2 separate regions of the Homo sapiens genome follow, and region 2 is linked to region 1. The links come from fine-mapping of genetic effects on gene expression. Tissue or cell type: whole blood. Region 1 holds a variant in brackets; the other region holds the start of a gene. All regions are shown on one strand. Distances are from middle to middle.

Region 1 (8,000 bases):
CACAAATCAGCTGTGTTTCTATATACTAATAATGAACAATCTAAAAAGGATATTGAGAAAACAGTCCTATTTACAATGGCATCAAAAATGCATAAAATAGGAATAAACTTAACCAAAGTGGTAAAGACTTATACACAGAAAACTACTATATATTGATGAAAGAAATTAAAGAAGACATAAAATAAATGGGAAGACATCCTGTGTTTATTGGAAAACTTAATATTGTTAAGATGACAGTACTGCCCAAATCAATCTGTATATTCGGTATAATCCTTCTCAAAATCTCAGTGACTTTTGTTTTACAGAAATAGATAAATCTGTCCTGTAATTTATATGGAATCACAAGGGATCCTGAATAGCCAGAACAATTTGAACAAAAAGAACAAAGTGATGGTGTGATGCTCCCTGACTTCAAAACTTATTACAAAGCTACAGTAAACAAGTTAGTGTGGTACTGGCATAAGATAGACATAGAAACCAATGGAATAGAATAGAGAGTCCCAGAAATAAAGCCTCACATATTTGGCCAAATGATTTCCCACAATGGCGCCGAGACTAGTCAGTGAGGAAAGGACAGTCTTTTCAACAAATGATATTGGTGGGGGTGGCAGGGGTCTGGATATTAAGAGGCAAAAGAATACAATTGGACCCTTACTTTACACCATGTAGAAAGATTAGCTCAAAATGGATCTAAGACTTAAAACTATAAAATTCTTAAAAGAAAACCTAGGGAAAGAAGCTTCTTGACTTTGGATTTGGCAAAAATTTTTTGGATATGACACCAAAAGCAAAGGCAACAGAAGTAAAAATACAGAAATTAGATTACATCAAAATTTAAAACTTCTGGGCATCAAAGGAAACAGTGGACAGGGTGGAAAGGCCACTTAGGGAATGGGAGATATTTACAAATCATATATCTGATAAAGGGATAATATCTAGAATATATAAAGAACTCCTACATCTCAACAGCAACAAATAATCTGATTCTAAAATGCTTGAATAGACACTTTTCCAAAGAGGATATACAAATGGCTAGTAGGCATATGAAAAGATGGTCAACATCATTGATAATTAGGGAAACGCAAATCAAAACCACAGTGAGATACCACTTTACAACCATCAAGGATGGCTGTTATATATATTTTAAAAATGTGTTGATGAGGATCCGAACAAAGTGGAACGCTGATTGTGCACTGCTAATAGGAATGTAAAATAGTGCAACCACAATGGAAAACAGTATAGGAGTTCCTTAAAAAGTAAAAGATAATTATTACTGTATGACCCAGGAAATCCACTTCTGGGTATATACCCCAAAGAATTAAAAGCCAGGTCTCAAAGAGATATTTGTATACCTGTGTTCATAGCAACATTATTTACAGTGCCAAAGGGTGGAAGCAATACAAGTGTCCATCAAAGGGTGAATGAATAAATAAAATATGGTACATTTATTGCATATAGTTTCACATTTGTTTTAAAAAGAAAAGGATTCTGGCTGGGCACAGCGGCTCACGCCTGTTATTCTAGCACTTTGGGAGGCCGAGGAGGGAGGATCACCTGAGGTCAGGAGTTTGAGACCAGCCTGGCCAACATGGTGAAATGCCATCTCTACTAAAAATACAAAAATTAGCTGGATGTAGTGGTGTATACCTGTAATCCCAGCTACTTGGGAGGCTGAGTCAGGAGAATTGCTTGAACCCAGGAGGTAGAGGTTGCAGTGAGCCGAGATCATGCCACTGCACTCCAGCCTGGGTGACAGAGCGAGACTTCTCAAAAAAAAAAAGGCTTCTGACACATGCTACAACACGGAGGAATCTTGAGGACATTATGCCAAGTGAAGTGAGCTAATCGCAAAAAGAAAAATACTGTTATGATTCCACTTGTATAAAGTATCTAGAGTAGTCAGAATCATAGAAACAGAAAGTAAAAATTTTTAAAAATATTTCGGGGGTAGGAAGATATAGGGAATTGTTTAATGAGTATAGAGTTTCAGTTTTTGCAAGATGAAAAAGTTCTGTAGATTGTGCAACAATGTGAATATACTTAATACTGAACTGTACACTTAAAATGGTTAAGATGGTGAATTTTATATTATGCATACTTTATATGATGGTGTGTTTACATTGTGTGTATTTTGCCACAATTAAAATGTTAAAAAGAAATGGTGAAAGCAGATAGAATTGCTGTTAAAATTTAGGGAGTAAGCATTCAATCTTTCACCATTAAGTATAATGTTACCTGTAGTTTTTTAGTAGATGTTTGTATTAGTCTGTTCAGGCTGCCATAACAAAATACCACAGACTGGGTGGCTTAAGTAACAGAAATTTAATTTCTCACATTTTTGGAGACAAGAAGTCCAAAATCACGTTGCCAGAAAATTTGGTTTCTGGTAGGCCTTTCTTTCTGACTTACATATGACTGCGTTTTCTCTGTACCTTTCTTTAATCTTGTCATTTACAGCTATAAATATCCCCCTAAGCACTATTTTAGTTGCATTGTGTAAGTGTGGTATTTTGTGACTTCATTTTTATGAATCTCAAATAAATTTTCTAGTTTTTTTTTGGTGAGTTCTTTTTTGATTTACTGGTTATTTCAGATTTTGTTGTTTAATTTCCGCATTTGTGAATTTGGTAGTTTCTCTCTGCTGTTGATAAACAATAACATTTAACTCTAAAGTTTAACTCTGTTGTAGCCAGAATCATACTGTATATGATTTGAGTCCTTTTACATTTACTGATGTTTGTTTTGTGGACTACTCTATAGTCTGTTGTTGTGCACTTGAGAAGAATGTATATTCTGTTGTTGTTGTTGGGTTTTGTATTCTGTGGATGTCTGTTAGGTCAAGTTGGTTTAGTGCTGTTCAAGTCTTTTACATAGCTCGGCTGTTCATTGTTGAAAGCAGGATTTTGAAGTCTGCAAGTATTATCTGTTTTTCAGTCAGCTCTGTCAGTTCTTGCTTTATGTATTTTGTGGTTTTCATATTAGGTGCTTATATATTTATAATTATTATACCTTCATGATGGTTGACCTTATCATAGTAAAAGTCCCTCTTTAGCTCTAGTAAAATTTTCCTAAGTCTTTTTTATCTGATATTAATATAATGACTACCCCTTTTTATGGTGGTTGTTTTTGTGCTATGTATCTTTTTGCTTCTTTTACTGTAATCCTGTTTATAATTTTGAGTCTAATTGTATCTCCTGAACTTAGAATACAACTGGATTTTGTGTTATTGTACATCCTGACAACCCTTCCTGTTGATTTGTTAATCCATTTGCAGTTCATGCTATTAATGATATGGTTTGCTTGTTTGCCATTTTACTTTTTGTTTTCTATGTGTCTTGCCATTTTTGTTCCTGTGTTCTTCCTTTATTGCTTTCTTTTGCATTATTTTGTATTGTAATATTTTAATTCCTTAAATGATTTTTAAAAAAGATTTCTAATGCTATTTAAAAAATTATTTTCTTAATGGTTGAGGGTTTACTATATATATAT[A/T]TATTTTTCTAACAGAATCTTCTTCAGATTCATATTGATTTAATTCCTGTAAGACATAGAATGATTCCTCCTATGTACCTCTATTTCTTTACTAATTATTGTTTATACATATCTATTTATGTTACAAACCCAACAATACATTGTAGCAGTTATTAGTTTATTTAACTGTCTTTTAAAGACATAAAGGAAAGGAGAGCATTATATGTTTATACAGTTTGTTATTTTAAAGTTAGCACTCCTTATTATCTTCATTTGTTTCAGTGTAGAGTTTCCATGTGATATCATTTCCTTATGCCAACCTTTCATAGTAGAAGTCCCTCTTTATCTCTGGTAAAATTTTCTGAATTCTGTTTCGTCTGATATTAGTATAATGATGACAACTTTGTACCCACTTATCTTGTATTACTATTAAATACATTACATTTCTTTATGTTATAGGTTTAACAATACAATTATAAACATAGTTTTTATATAATTCCTTTTTAAATTATTTAAGAAAGGAAAATATATATGCAAAATATATATGCATTTATATTGTCTTATAGTTACACAGTTACTTTTGACTACTGTTTGGCAGTACATGCTTTCAACTCAAAGAACTTCCTTTAGTATTTCTTTTCAGGTGCATCCACTTGCAATGAATTCTCTGAGTTTCTGTTTATCTATGAATGTATTTTTCATCTTCATTTTTGAAGATAGTTTTGCTGAATATAATTATCTTGGTTCACATTTTTTTTCTTTGAGTTCTTTATGTCCTTCCACTGTCTCTGGCCTCCCTGGTTTCTGAGGATAAGTCAGCTGTTAATCTTTTTGTGGTTCCCATGTACCATGGAGAATATGATGAGTCATTTATTTCCTGCTGCTTTTAGTTTTTCTTTTCCTTTCTCCTTTCTTTTCTTTTCTTTTCTCTCTTCTCTTCTTCTCTTTTCTTTTTTCTCTTTTCTCTTTTCTTCCTTTCCTTTCTCCCCTCCCCACCTTCCTGCCTGTCTCCCTCCCCTCCCCTAGCATCCCCTCCCCTCCCCTCCCCTCCCCTCCTAACAAATTAAGAGATAAGAAAGCTTGTGATAATGTTTGTGTAGATGGGAGTGTCTTTTCCTCTTCTTCATGGCCATAAAACTCCTCCTAGACAGGGGAATTATGGTACGTTTACTCTTGATCTCCTTCCTGGGAGTAAACCGTTGAAGAGGGAATTTATGGCAGCCTCATTTGTCACAGTTTCTGCTTTTAATCATATAAGGGAAGTATGGAGAGGGCTTCTTCCTGCATTCATTGAATATCAGATGTCTTCAGCTTAAAATCATGATTATGTCAACTCTGAGTTTTGAATGGGTCCTCACAAAAGCATCAGATCAGAAGAGATTTAATACATAAACAGATGCAGGAATCTAGCTGTCTTCTATTAAACAATGAGATTTATAAAAATGTACAGGAGTGCCACTCTGCTCACTAATTTTTTTTTTTTTGAGAAAATAGTTAAACTTCATTGAAATGTTATTTATGTTAACTGGGTTTATTACTAATGCTAAATGAATTAAGAGATATAGTTTTTACGCTGTCAGTTTTAATGTCTAATATTGCAAATACCCATAGATAAAACCCTACATAATCCAAAGGTTTTGGGAGTCCTTAATCTTTTTCTTTTCTTTTTTTTTTTTTGAGATGGAGTTTTGCTTTTGTTGCCCAGGCTGGAGTTCAGTCGCGCGATCTCGGCTCACTGCAACCTCTGCCTTTCAGGTTCAAGCAGTTCTCCTGCCTCAGCCTCCCAAGTAGCTGGCATTACAGGCATGTGCCACCACGCCCAGCTAATTTTTGTATTTCTAGTAGAGATGGGGTTTCACCATGTTGGCCAGGCTGGTCTCGAACTCCTGACCTCAGGTGATCCTCCCACCTCGGCCTCCCAAGTGCTGGGATTACAGGTGTGAGTCACCACGCTTGGCCCTTAATCATTTTTTACAGGATAAAGGGGTCCTGAGACCAAAAAGTTTCAGACTTCTAGTAACTATCTTCTTCATAGTCCCAAAGTGAACTGCTTTACTTCGTGGTATTACGTCTATATTCCAGGCTGGATGAGGGAGGAGGAATTCCAGAGAAATGGGCAATGGCAATATCAGGAAAGCAAAATGTTTTCCCAGGAAATCTTTAGTTAATTTCTTTCAAAAGAACTTTTTATATATTTAATAGTTTTCCTTAACTGCAAAGTAGTGTGGAAAAGTGAGAACTTTTAGCTGGGTTTGTTGCTGCTCAGGACAAAGTCAGGGTTCTTTTGGTGGGGACAAAGGGAGATAGGTATTGAGTATGTAGTTAGCGGTGTTCATTGCCCACATATTTTGTCTTTTTTTTTAAGGACCAGTCCTGGTCAGAGTTTCAGGAAAACCCCACATGATGAAGTCCTATTGTTTGACTCTTTCATACAGAATCCCAAAAACTCGCTTAGGCATCTCACCTCGTTGTCTTCTTGATAATTATTGGTTTCTACTTTCCAGGGTGTATTTGGTCTATGTGAGTTTTATGCCTTGGCTCTACCCACAAGTACATTCTGTTGGGAGCCACATGTGGACTTGTGAAAAACATCATTGACAGCACTGATTAAATTGTAAAATGTGCCTTATTCTTCAGCAGAGCTTCTCTTTATCTTTGTGATCTGGTAGCTTCTCACATTAAGAAAACTTTGTTTTCTCACACCCTCAGACTCAGTCTTTCCCAATCTGTACCATTGTGTTTCCTGATTGATTGATTTGTATTAACTCAATTGTGGGCTCACAGCCATCTTTTACATAGGAATTTACTTTTAAAATGGTCATGATTTGCTTTTTAAAACATGAGTCATAAATTGGGTGCAGTAGTATGCCTGTAATCTCAGCTACTTGGGAGGTTGAGGTGGGAGGATCACTTGAGCCCAGGAATTAGAGACTGTAGTATGACATGATGGTACTCGTGAATAGCTACTGTCCTCCAGCCTGGACAACATGGCAAAACCCTGTCTTAAAAACAAACAAACAAAACTCATAGACTTTATTGATTTTTCTGGTTCAAGATTTGGAATGAAAACTTGCACCTCAAACTGTGGTCTGGGGACAGCAGCATGGGAGTCACCTGGGAGCTTTTTGGAAATGCAGAAATCTGAGTCCCCCCTAGACCTAACAAACCACAATCTACATTTTAGCAAGATCCCTAAATGATTAGGTGTCCAGAGTTGGAAAAGCACTGGCTAAAGGAGAAAACAAATGAAATCTAGAGGGCATGAGGCTGTGTTCTGAGGAGCTCTCATGTTGAATGTAGATGAAAAGAGCCCACCAGAGAGATGTGGAGATGAAAGCCAGGGTAGTGTGTGGCATCTCTTAGTACCTTCTCTGAGGAAGGAAGGAAGATGCAGCGAGGCTTCCATCTCTCCTGGGGTCACAAGGTGGTGGTATCCAGTAAGCAGTGACTGAATGTGTTAAAGAGCTGTAAATAATTTGCCAGGGTTTTTATTACTTGGGCATTGAAGCTTAGTTTGGGCTTGAACTGGAACTTTTTTCTCCTTGGTATGTCTAATTCCACTTCTTTACATTGATGCTTGGCAAACTTTACTTCTCATTCAGAACCAAGATGCCATTCTGACTACAGGGCAGAGTGGTGTCACACTTCCACCTTGATATACTTTATGTATGTGCTTCTTTTATGTCATTCTTAAGCTCTTCCCTAGTTTGGACATTTCTCACCAAAACACTTTTTCAGAGGAGTTCAGTGGTAATACACGTTGAGCGTCCCTAATCCACAAACTCGAAATCCAGCATGCTTCAAAATCTGAAACTTTGGAATGTCAGCATGACACTCAAAGTAAGTGCTCATTGTCACCTTTCAGATTTTGAATTCTCAGATTTGGGATGCTCCACCTGTAAGTATAATGCAAATATTCCAAAGTCCAAAAAACTCAGAAATATGAAACAGTTCTGGTCCCAAGCATTTCAAATAAGGGATTCTCAATATTATCATTGGCATATGGTTAGGAGTGAGATTTTGGTCCATATTCTATGCCTGACACAGTTGTTCACACATAGTAGTTGCATAGTAAATAAGTGTGGAAAGAATGACTGATTTGAATGAGTTTTGGGACTTGCTTTCTGGAAAATATCTCTGATGTTGTCCTGCACTATATATTTTAAGTCCAAATAAATGGACATCTAAAGAGCAGTGTTTAGGCTGGGCGCAGTGGCTCACGCCTGTAATCCCAGCACTTTGGGAGGCCGAGGCGGGCAGATCACGAGGTCAGGAGATCGAGACCATCCTGGCTAACACAGTGAAACCCCGTCTCTACTAAAAATACAAAAACTGAGCCGGACATGGTGGTGGGCGCCTGTAGTCCCAGCTACTTGGGAGGCTGAGGCAGGAGAGTGGCATGAACCTGGGAGGCGGAGCGTGCAGTGAGCCGAGATTGCACCAGTGCACTCCAGCCTGGGCGACAGAGCGAGACTACGTATCAAAAAAGAAAAAAAAAAAGAAGAAGAAGAAGAAGAAGAAAAAGAGCAGTG
Region 2 (8,000 bases), 180 kb before region 1:
GACGGAGTTTAGCTCTTGTTGCCCAGACTGGTGGCATGATCTTGGCTCACCACAACCTCCGCCTCCCGGGCTCAAGAGATTCTTCTGCCTCAGCCTCCCTAGTAGCTGGGATTACAGGTATGTGCCACCATGCCCGGCTAATTTTGTATTTTTAGTAGAGATAGGGTTTCTCCATGTTGGTCAGGCTGGTCTCGAACTCCCGACCTCAGGTTATCCGTCCACCTCGGCCTCCTAAAGTGCTGGGATTACAGGCATGAGCCACCGTGCCCGGCCAAATCTGCTTATTTTTAAGCTTTTTGATGCTTTTCTGTTTTGTTTCAGTTTTTTTTCCTATTTATTAATACAAGTTCTTTAGGTATTTTGGATAATTGTTAAAAAGCTTTTTAATTTGTTCATTGGTTTCTTTGCTGTGAAGGTTTTCAATTTGGCATTGTCCCATGTTTAGTTTGGCTTTTCATGTCTCCACTTTTGTGACATATTCTGTAAATTATTGTCAAGATCAATACCTAGAAACTTCTAGACAAAAACCTAAAAGAAAAGTTTTCTCATTTCAGGTCTTACACTTAAATGTTGTTTTTTGATTTTTTTTTTTTTGGAGACAGAGTCTCGCTCTGTTGCCCAGGCTGGAGTGCAGTGGTGCGATCTCGACTCACTGCAGCCTTCGCCTCCCGGGTTCAAGTGATTCTCCTGCCTTAGCCTCCTGAGTAGCTGGGACTATAGGCACGCGCTACCACGCCCAGCTAATTTTTGTGCTTTTAGTAGAGACAGGGTTTTGCCATGTTGGCCAGGATGTTCTCGACCTCCTGACCTTGTGATCCACCCGCCTCCGCTTCCCAAAGTGCTGGGATTACAGTCATGAGCCACCACGCTTGGCCACATTTAAATCTTTAATAAATTTTTATTGGATTTTCGTTTGGCAAACTATGCTACCCCCCCCCCCCCACTGTCTGATCTTGTTAATAAAGTTTTATTGGAACACAACCACATTCATTGATTTACTTACTTTCTATTGTTGCTTTCACCCTACCTCCAATGTAAGAGTTGAGTAATTATGACGAGACCGGATGGCTCACAGAGCCTCAGATGTTTTCTATCTGCCCCTTTTATTTATTTTTTTGAGACGGAGTCTTGCTCTGTCACCCAGGCTGGAGTGCAGTCATGTGATCTTGGCTCACTGCAACCTCTATTTCCTGGGTTGAAGCGATGCTCCTGCCTCAGCCTCCCGAGTAGCTGGGATTACAGGCGCCTGCCATCACACCCAGCTAATTTTTGTATTTTTAGTAGAGTTGGGGTTTCACCATGTTGGCCAGGTTGGTCTTGAACTCCTGACCTCGTGATCCACCTGCCTCGGCCTCCCAAAGTGCGGGGATAACAGGCGTGAGCCACTGCGCCTGGCCCTGCCCCTTTACATAAACAGTTCGCTGACCATTGCTCTAAGGCATTCTGTTCCATTCTTGCCTTGTGGAAGCAGCAGAATGAACCTAGGTAATAGCCGGGGGAAGTGCTGAGGATAGAAATGTCAGCCTCTAGAGCAGCACTGCCCCATAGAACTCTGCAGGAATGAAAATTTTCTTTATCTGCATCGTCAAAGGCAGTAGCCACTAGCCACCTGGATGGCTGACCCCATTCTAGTCTGTGTTTTTTGGTGCTCTGTCGTCTTGCTGCTGACTATTCAGCCTGTCACCATGGTGCAGTCTTGTAGGCCGCCCAGGTTGGTCTCAGCGATCCTGGAGCTACTGACTTCTTCCTTGGGCACTGTAAGATCAGACAGGGAATTACTCATACCCAGAGTCAAAGATTTTGTTCAGCTCCCACAGGTCAACCATTTGCCCAAGTCTGCTGTGAGAGTGACGTGATGACAGATGAGGGCACTTGCTAGTTGGCCACTCCTTTCCCCTATTCATTTTATGCATCTTCCTTCTGTCCGTAGGTTATTTGTGCACATAGTTTCTTGCTGTAGTACCCAATGTCGGTCAGAGTCAGCATTTGTTAAATACGATGATTTTCTTTTGGAACAACTAAATCTACTCATCAATCAGTAGGATTGGTTTCAGGGGATTCAGGAGACAACAGGTTTAGAAAATACGCAAGCTGCTATTTTGAGAGGCTTGAAAGGGAGAGAGAACTTACGTTAAAAAAAAGTTCCTATGGTAACAACTTTTAATGCTATTTTATTCAGTCTCCATGGTCTATCAGATAGGTAATGTAGTAACACTAATTTTACAGATAAAGCTAAAATCTGGAAGCAATGTGGAATAATGGAACAAGGTTGGATTTTTGTATTGTGTCCTAGTTTAAATATGGCTTTCCGACATAGAGCTGTTTGATTATAGGTAAATTGTTCTACTTTAATTGGCTTTTGTTTACTCCTTTGTAGACGAGGGATTTCACTACCAACTTTGCAGGATTGTGATGGGGAGAGAATACGTAAAGACCCTTATCAACTATCTGGCACTTGAAGAATGGCAGATGATAATGATGATGATGTTGTAAAGAATGAATGACTTGGCCAGGTAATGGAGCTTCTGGTATTGGGAGGCAAGGCTTTAAACACACCTGCCTGACTCCACGGTCCATGCTGTCAATTCTCCAGTGTGAATGAAGTGGGCAGGCAAGGGTGAGAAACGCTAAGGTTTTTACTCAGTAAGTCTCCATCACAGGCCCTATTCTAGGCTCAGGAATGCAAAGATGATTACCATCATAGCTCTGTCCTCAAAGGTCTCCAATCTATTTAGCATTAAGCATATGTGGAGTTTCAGAAGGAACCAACGGCGAGACTGGTGAATCAATGCCCAGTGCCTCACCATACTCCCCCAGTGTATGCTCAATAGTTCGTTGAACTGTGGAGATAAGTTGGTGGGTAGGGTCTCAGAAGAATGAGAGAGGACAGGAGACACAGATTAGATGTTTAGTTTCATATTAGACTGGCTCCTCTGAGCCAGAAGTCGAGGATGAGTGAACCCGCAGTGGGAGTGAGATGACATTCTTTGTCAGCTGAGTAACCCACTTAGTGAAGGAGGTTCACGGAGTTGGAAAATCGGTAGGGGGAACGGAACGAGGCAGTGGGCTCCCATGTTAGGTTGAAAGGCAGGTGTTGGCTTGAAGCCAGTTACTGTTTACACCGCAGCTCAGCAGCTTGGAAACTGGAGCAGGAGGTGTGGCTGGGCTTACCCAACGCTGGGATTTGAGCCCAGGGTGCCTACTCCATTGCCTGGCCTACAGTTCTCAGTAAATTGTATGAGGACTACAGAAAGTTATCTGTTTTCGCCTTTGTCTTCAAGCAGGCACGGTAATGCCCCCATTTTCCAGATGAGGCAATTGAGGCCAGAAACATTAGGGGACGGTGAAGCCTAAAGCAGATTTGTTAGGACAGGCCGGCCCAAACGCACCAGGAGCGCCCCTCACTCTGGAGAGGCCACCGACTGGACAGCGTCTGCCTGTATCGCCTATCTCCAGCAAATCAGGCGCCTGGAAGAGGATCCCCGGTGGGTCTCACGGAGGGCGGCTCCGGCTTCAACCCCGCCGTTCCCAGCAGGCCATGCGGCTGCCCTCCAGACGCCCGCGTGGGCACGAGTCAGGGGTCCAGTGTTGCTAGTAATAAAAGATCAACATCCGGGCCTCGTAACTCACAACCTCCAGCGAATGCCAAGAAGGCCCCAGGGCCCTGGCGCCCCGGCAACCGCCCACGTCCGGGGGCCAGGCCTGCCCCCGCCCGCGCTGATTGGAGGGCAGCGAAAGCGCCGTCCAGCGATTGGTAGGTGGTGTCACAAAGGGGCGGGGCGCGGCGGCAGCGGAGCGTTGTCGGCCAGTGCCTTCCGTGAAGTTGCTCGCCGGGTCGTTGGGCCCTGTCGACCTGTAGGCGGGCGAGCGAGCCAGCGGACAAGACTGCGGGTGAGGCTGAGCTAGCGAGCGGCCGGCAGGGGGGGCGCCCGGGCTGCGAGCCGCTGAGCCCAGCCGCGCTGCCGCCGCCGGCCGTCGTGGGGCCGGAATGGCGCAAGGCCGGAGTGGCGCGGGCGCTCGGCGCTGGGCTGCCGGGTAGAGTCCTGTCCCCGCCCCTCGCCTTGCGGCCTGACGCCGGCCGCTGCTGCCCGGGGACCGGAGCGGCGGGCCGCCTTTGCCCAGGACACACGCTCTGGCGTTTGTTCCTTTGGGCGTGACGCCAGCTTCAACGGGTACGCGGCTTTCCCGACGGGTGCTGATCTCCGAGTCGCTGTTGTCACGCGGACTGCTGTCCTCCAGATTCAGGCCGGTGGGTCTGGGGAGCCCGGATTGGTCTTGGAGGAGCAACGGCTGCGCAGGTGACTCGGTGGCCTCAAGTGTGTAGGTACCTGGATGGCGCGAGGAGATGCTGGCTCTGAAATACTTCCCAATTCCGCTTGCAGATGAACTCCGGACTAGAGTTTAGGCTACAGACAAGTTAGGCGGTTGATGTGATTCTGTAGCTCGTATTTCGAACTTTAGGGATGTTTTGATGTATCAGTAAATGTAGATCTGTGTCACAGTTTTAATGGCAGCTTCACATTCCGGATATCTTTATGTTGGGGAAAATGTTTCAAAGGTAACTGCTCTTCTGTAGCTAAGCTTCTTTAGAGCAGAGGTTGGAGAAAATTCTGAGTTACTGAAATTACGTATTCAGCGCTATTGCCTGTTTACCTTTAACTTCCATTTCATCCTTGGAGTTGTGTTTTTAGAAACTTTTCAGAAGAAATGAGAGAAATGCTTTGGGAATTGATTTTTTTTTTTTTTTTAAGTTCTAGGGTACATGTGCACAACGTGCAGGTTTGGTACATAGCTATACATGTGCCATGTTGGTTTTCTGCACCGACTAACTCGTCATTTATATTGCGTATTTCTCTTAATGCTATCCCTCCCCCCATCTCACTCCCCACGACAGGCCCCAGTGTGTGATGTTCCCCTCCCTGTGTCCAAGTGTTCTCATTGTTGAGTTCCCATCTATGAGTGAGAACATGGCGGTGTTTGGTTTTCTGTCCTTGTGACAGTTTGCTGAGAATGATGGTTTCCAGCTTCATCCATGTCCATGCAAAGGACATGAACTCATCCTTTTTTTATGGCTGCATAGTATTCCATGGTGTATATGTGCCACATATTCTTAATCCACTCTATCACTGATGGACATTTGGGTTGGTTCCAAGTCTTTGCTGTTGTGAATTGTGCCACAGTAAACATACGTGTGCATGTGTCTTTATAGTGGCATGATTTATAATCCTTTGGGTATATACCCAGTAATGGGATCGCTGGGTCAAATGGTATTTCTAGTTCTAGATCCTTGAGGAATTGCCACACTGTTTTCCACAACGGTTGAACTAATTTACAGTCCCACCAACAGTGTAAAAGTGTTCCTATTTCTACACATCCTCTCCAGCATCTGTTGTTTCCTAACTTTCTAATGATCGCCATTCTAACTGGTGTGAGATGGTATCTCACTGTGGTTTTGATTTGCATTTTTCTGATGACCAGTGATGATGAGTGTTTTTTCATGTGTCTGTTGGCTGCATAAATATCTTCTTTTGAGAACTGTCTGTTCATATCCTTTGCCCACTTTTTGATGCGGTTGTTTTTTTCTTGAAAATTTGTCTAAGTTCTTTGTAGATTCTGGATATTAGCCCTCTGTCAGATGGGTAGATTGCAAAATTTTTTTCCCATTCTGTAGGTTGCCTGTTCACTCTGATGGTAGTTTCTTTTGCTGTGCAGAAGCTCTTTAGTTTAATTAGATCCCATTTGTCTATTTTGGCTTTTGTTGCCATTGCTTTTGGTGTTTTAGTCATGAAGTCCGTGCTCATGCCTATGTCCTGAATGGTATTGCCTAGGTTTTCTTCTAGGGTTTTTATGGTTTCAGGTCTAACATTTAAGTCTTTAATCCATCTTGAATTAATTTTTGTATAAGGTGTAAGGAAGGGATCCAGTTTCAGCTTTCTACATATGGCTAGCCAGTTTTCCCAGCACCATTTATTAAATAGGGAATCATTTCCCTACGTCTTGTTTTTGTCAGGTTTGTCAAAGATGGTTGTAGGCTGGGCACAGTGGCTTACGCCTGTAATCCCAGCACTTTGGGAGGCCGAGGCAGGCGGATCACCTGAGGTTGAGAGTTTGAGACCAGCCTGACGAACATGGAGAAACCCCTGTTGGGAGAAATCTCTACTAAAAATGCAAAAAAATTAGCCGGGCGTGGTGGCACATGCCTGTAATCCCAGCTACTAGGGAGGCTGAGGCAGGAGAATCACTTGAATCTGGGAGGCGGAGGTTGTGGTGAGCCAAGATCACACCATTGCACTCCAGCCTGGGCAACAAAAGTGAAACTCCGTCTCAAAAAAAAAAAAAAAAAATCAGATAGTTGTGATTTTTGCACATTGATTTTGTACCCTGAGACTTTGCTTAAGTTGTTTATCAGCTTAAGGAGATTTTGGGTTGGGACGATGGGGTTTTCTAAATGTATAATCATGTCATCTGCAAACAGGGACAATTTGACTTCCTCTTTTCCTAATTGAATATCCTTTATTTCTGTCTCCTGTCTGATTGCTCTGGCCAGAACTTCCAACACTGTGTTAAATAGGAGTGGTGAGAGAGGGCATCCCTGTCTTGTGCCGGTTTTCAAAGGGAATGCTTCCAGTTTTTGCCCATTCACTATGATATTGGCTGTGAGTTTGTCATAAATAGCTCTTATTATTTTGAGATACGTTCCATCAATACCTAGTTTATTAAGAGTTTTTAGCATGAAGAGCTGTTGGATTTTGTCAAAGGCCTTTTCTGCATCTATTAAGATAATCATGTGGTTTTTGTCATTGGCTCTGTTTATGTGATGGATTATATTTATTGATTTGCCTGTATTGAACCAGCCTTGCATCCCAGGGATGAGGCCGACTTGATCATAGTGGATAAGCTTTTTGATGTGCTGCTGGATTCGGTGTGCCAGTATTTTATTGAGGATTTTCGCATAGATGTTCATCAGGGATACTGGTCTAAAATTCTCTTTTTTTGTTGTGTGTCTGCCAGGCTTTGGTATCAGGATGATGCTGGCCTCATAAAATGAGTTAGGGAGGATTCCCTCTTTTTCTATTGATTGGAATAGTTTCAGAAGGAATGGTACCAGCTCCTCTTTGTACCCCTGGTAGAATTTGGCTGTGAATCCATCTGGACCTGGACTTTTTTTGTTGGTAGGCTATTAATTATTGCCTCAATTTCAGAGCCTGTTATTGGTTTCTTCAGAGATTCCACTTCTTCCTGGTTTAGTCCTGGGAAGGTATATGTGTCCAGGAATTTATCAATTTCTTCTAGATTTTCCAGTTTATTTGTGTAGAGGTGTTTATGGTATTCTCTGATGGTAGTTTGTATTTCTGTGGGATCGCTGGTGATATCCCCTTTATCTTTTTTTATTGCATCTATTTGATTCTTTAGTCTTACTAACAATCTATCAATTTTGTTGATCTTTTCAAAAAACCAGCTCTCAGATTCATTGATTTTTTGAAGGGATTTTTGTGTCTCTATTTCCTTCAGTTCTGCTCTGATCTTAGTTATTTCTTGCCTCCTGCTAGCTTTTGAATTTGTTTGCTCTTGCTTCTCTAGTTCTTTTAATTGTGATTTTAGGGTGTCAATTTTAGATCTTTCCTGCTTTCTCTTGTGGGCATTTAGTGCTATAAATTTCCCTGTACACACTGCTTTAAATGTGTCCCAGAGATTCTGGTGCGTTGTGTCTTTGTTCTCATTGGTTTCAAAGAACATCTTTATTTCTGCCTTCATTTCGTTATTTACCCAGTAGTCATTCAGGAGCAGGTTGTTCAGTTTCCATGTAGTTGTGCAGTTTTGAGTGAGTTTCTTAATCCTGAGTTATAATTTGATTGCACTGTGGTCTGAGAGACAGTTTGTTGTGATTTCTGTTGTTTTACATTTGCTAAGGAGTGCTTTACTTCCAGCTATGTGGTCAACTTTGGAATAAGTGCGATGTGGTGCTGAGAAGAATTTGCCAGACATTAAAATGTCTTTTA

The links. PIP is the estimated chance that this variant, and not a neighbour inherited with it, causes the effect.
Region 2: it holds the start of ZFAND4, and the variant in region 1 is fine-mapped to the expression of ZFAND4 in whole blood (INTERVAL, PIP 0.98).

What each region holds. Positions count from the first base shown.
Region 1 is chr10:45,492,266-45,500,265 of GRCh38, reverse strand. The region is part of intron 2 of MARCHF8 (membrane associated ring-CH-type finger 8); the gene reads left to right. The region is part of intron 1 of LOC105378286 (a long non-coding RNA gene); the gene reads right to left. Among named protein-coding and RNA genes, the nearest start is that of MARCHF8, 39 kb to the left of the region's middle. The variant A/T (reference allele first, on the strand shown) is at 3,490.
Region 2 is chr10:45,668,570-45,676,569 of GRCh38, reverse strand. ZFAND4 (zinc finger AN1-type containing 4) reads left to right here and starts at 3,798. Exons shown (of 10, transcript NM_174890.4): 1 at 3,798-4,320. RefSeq lists a silencer at 3,496-4,215.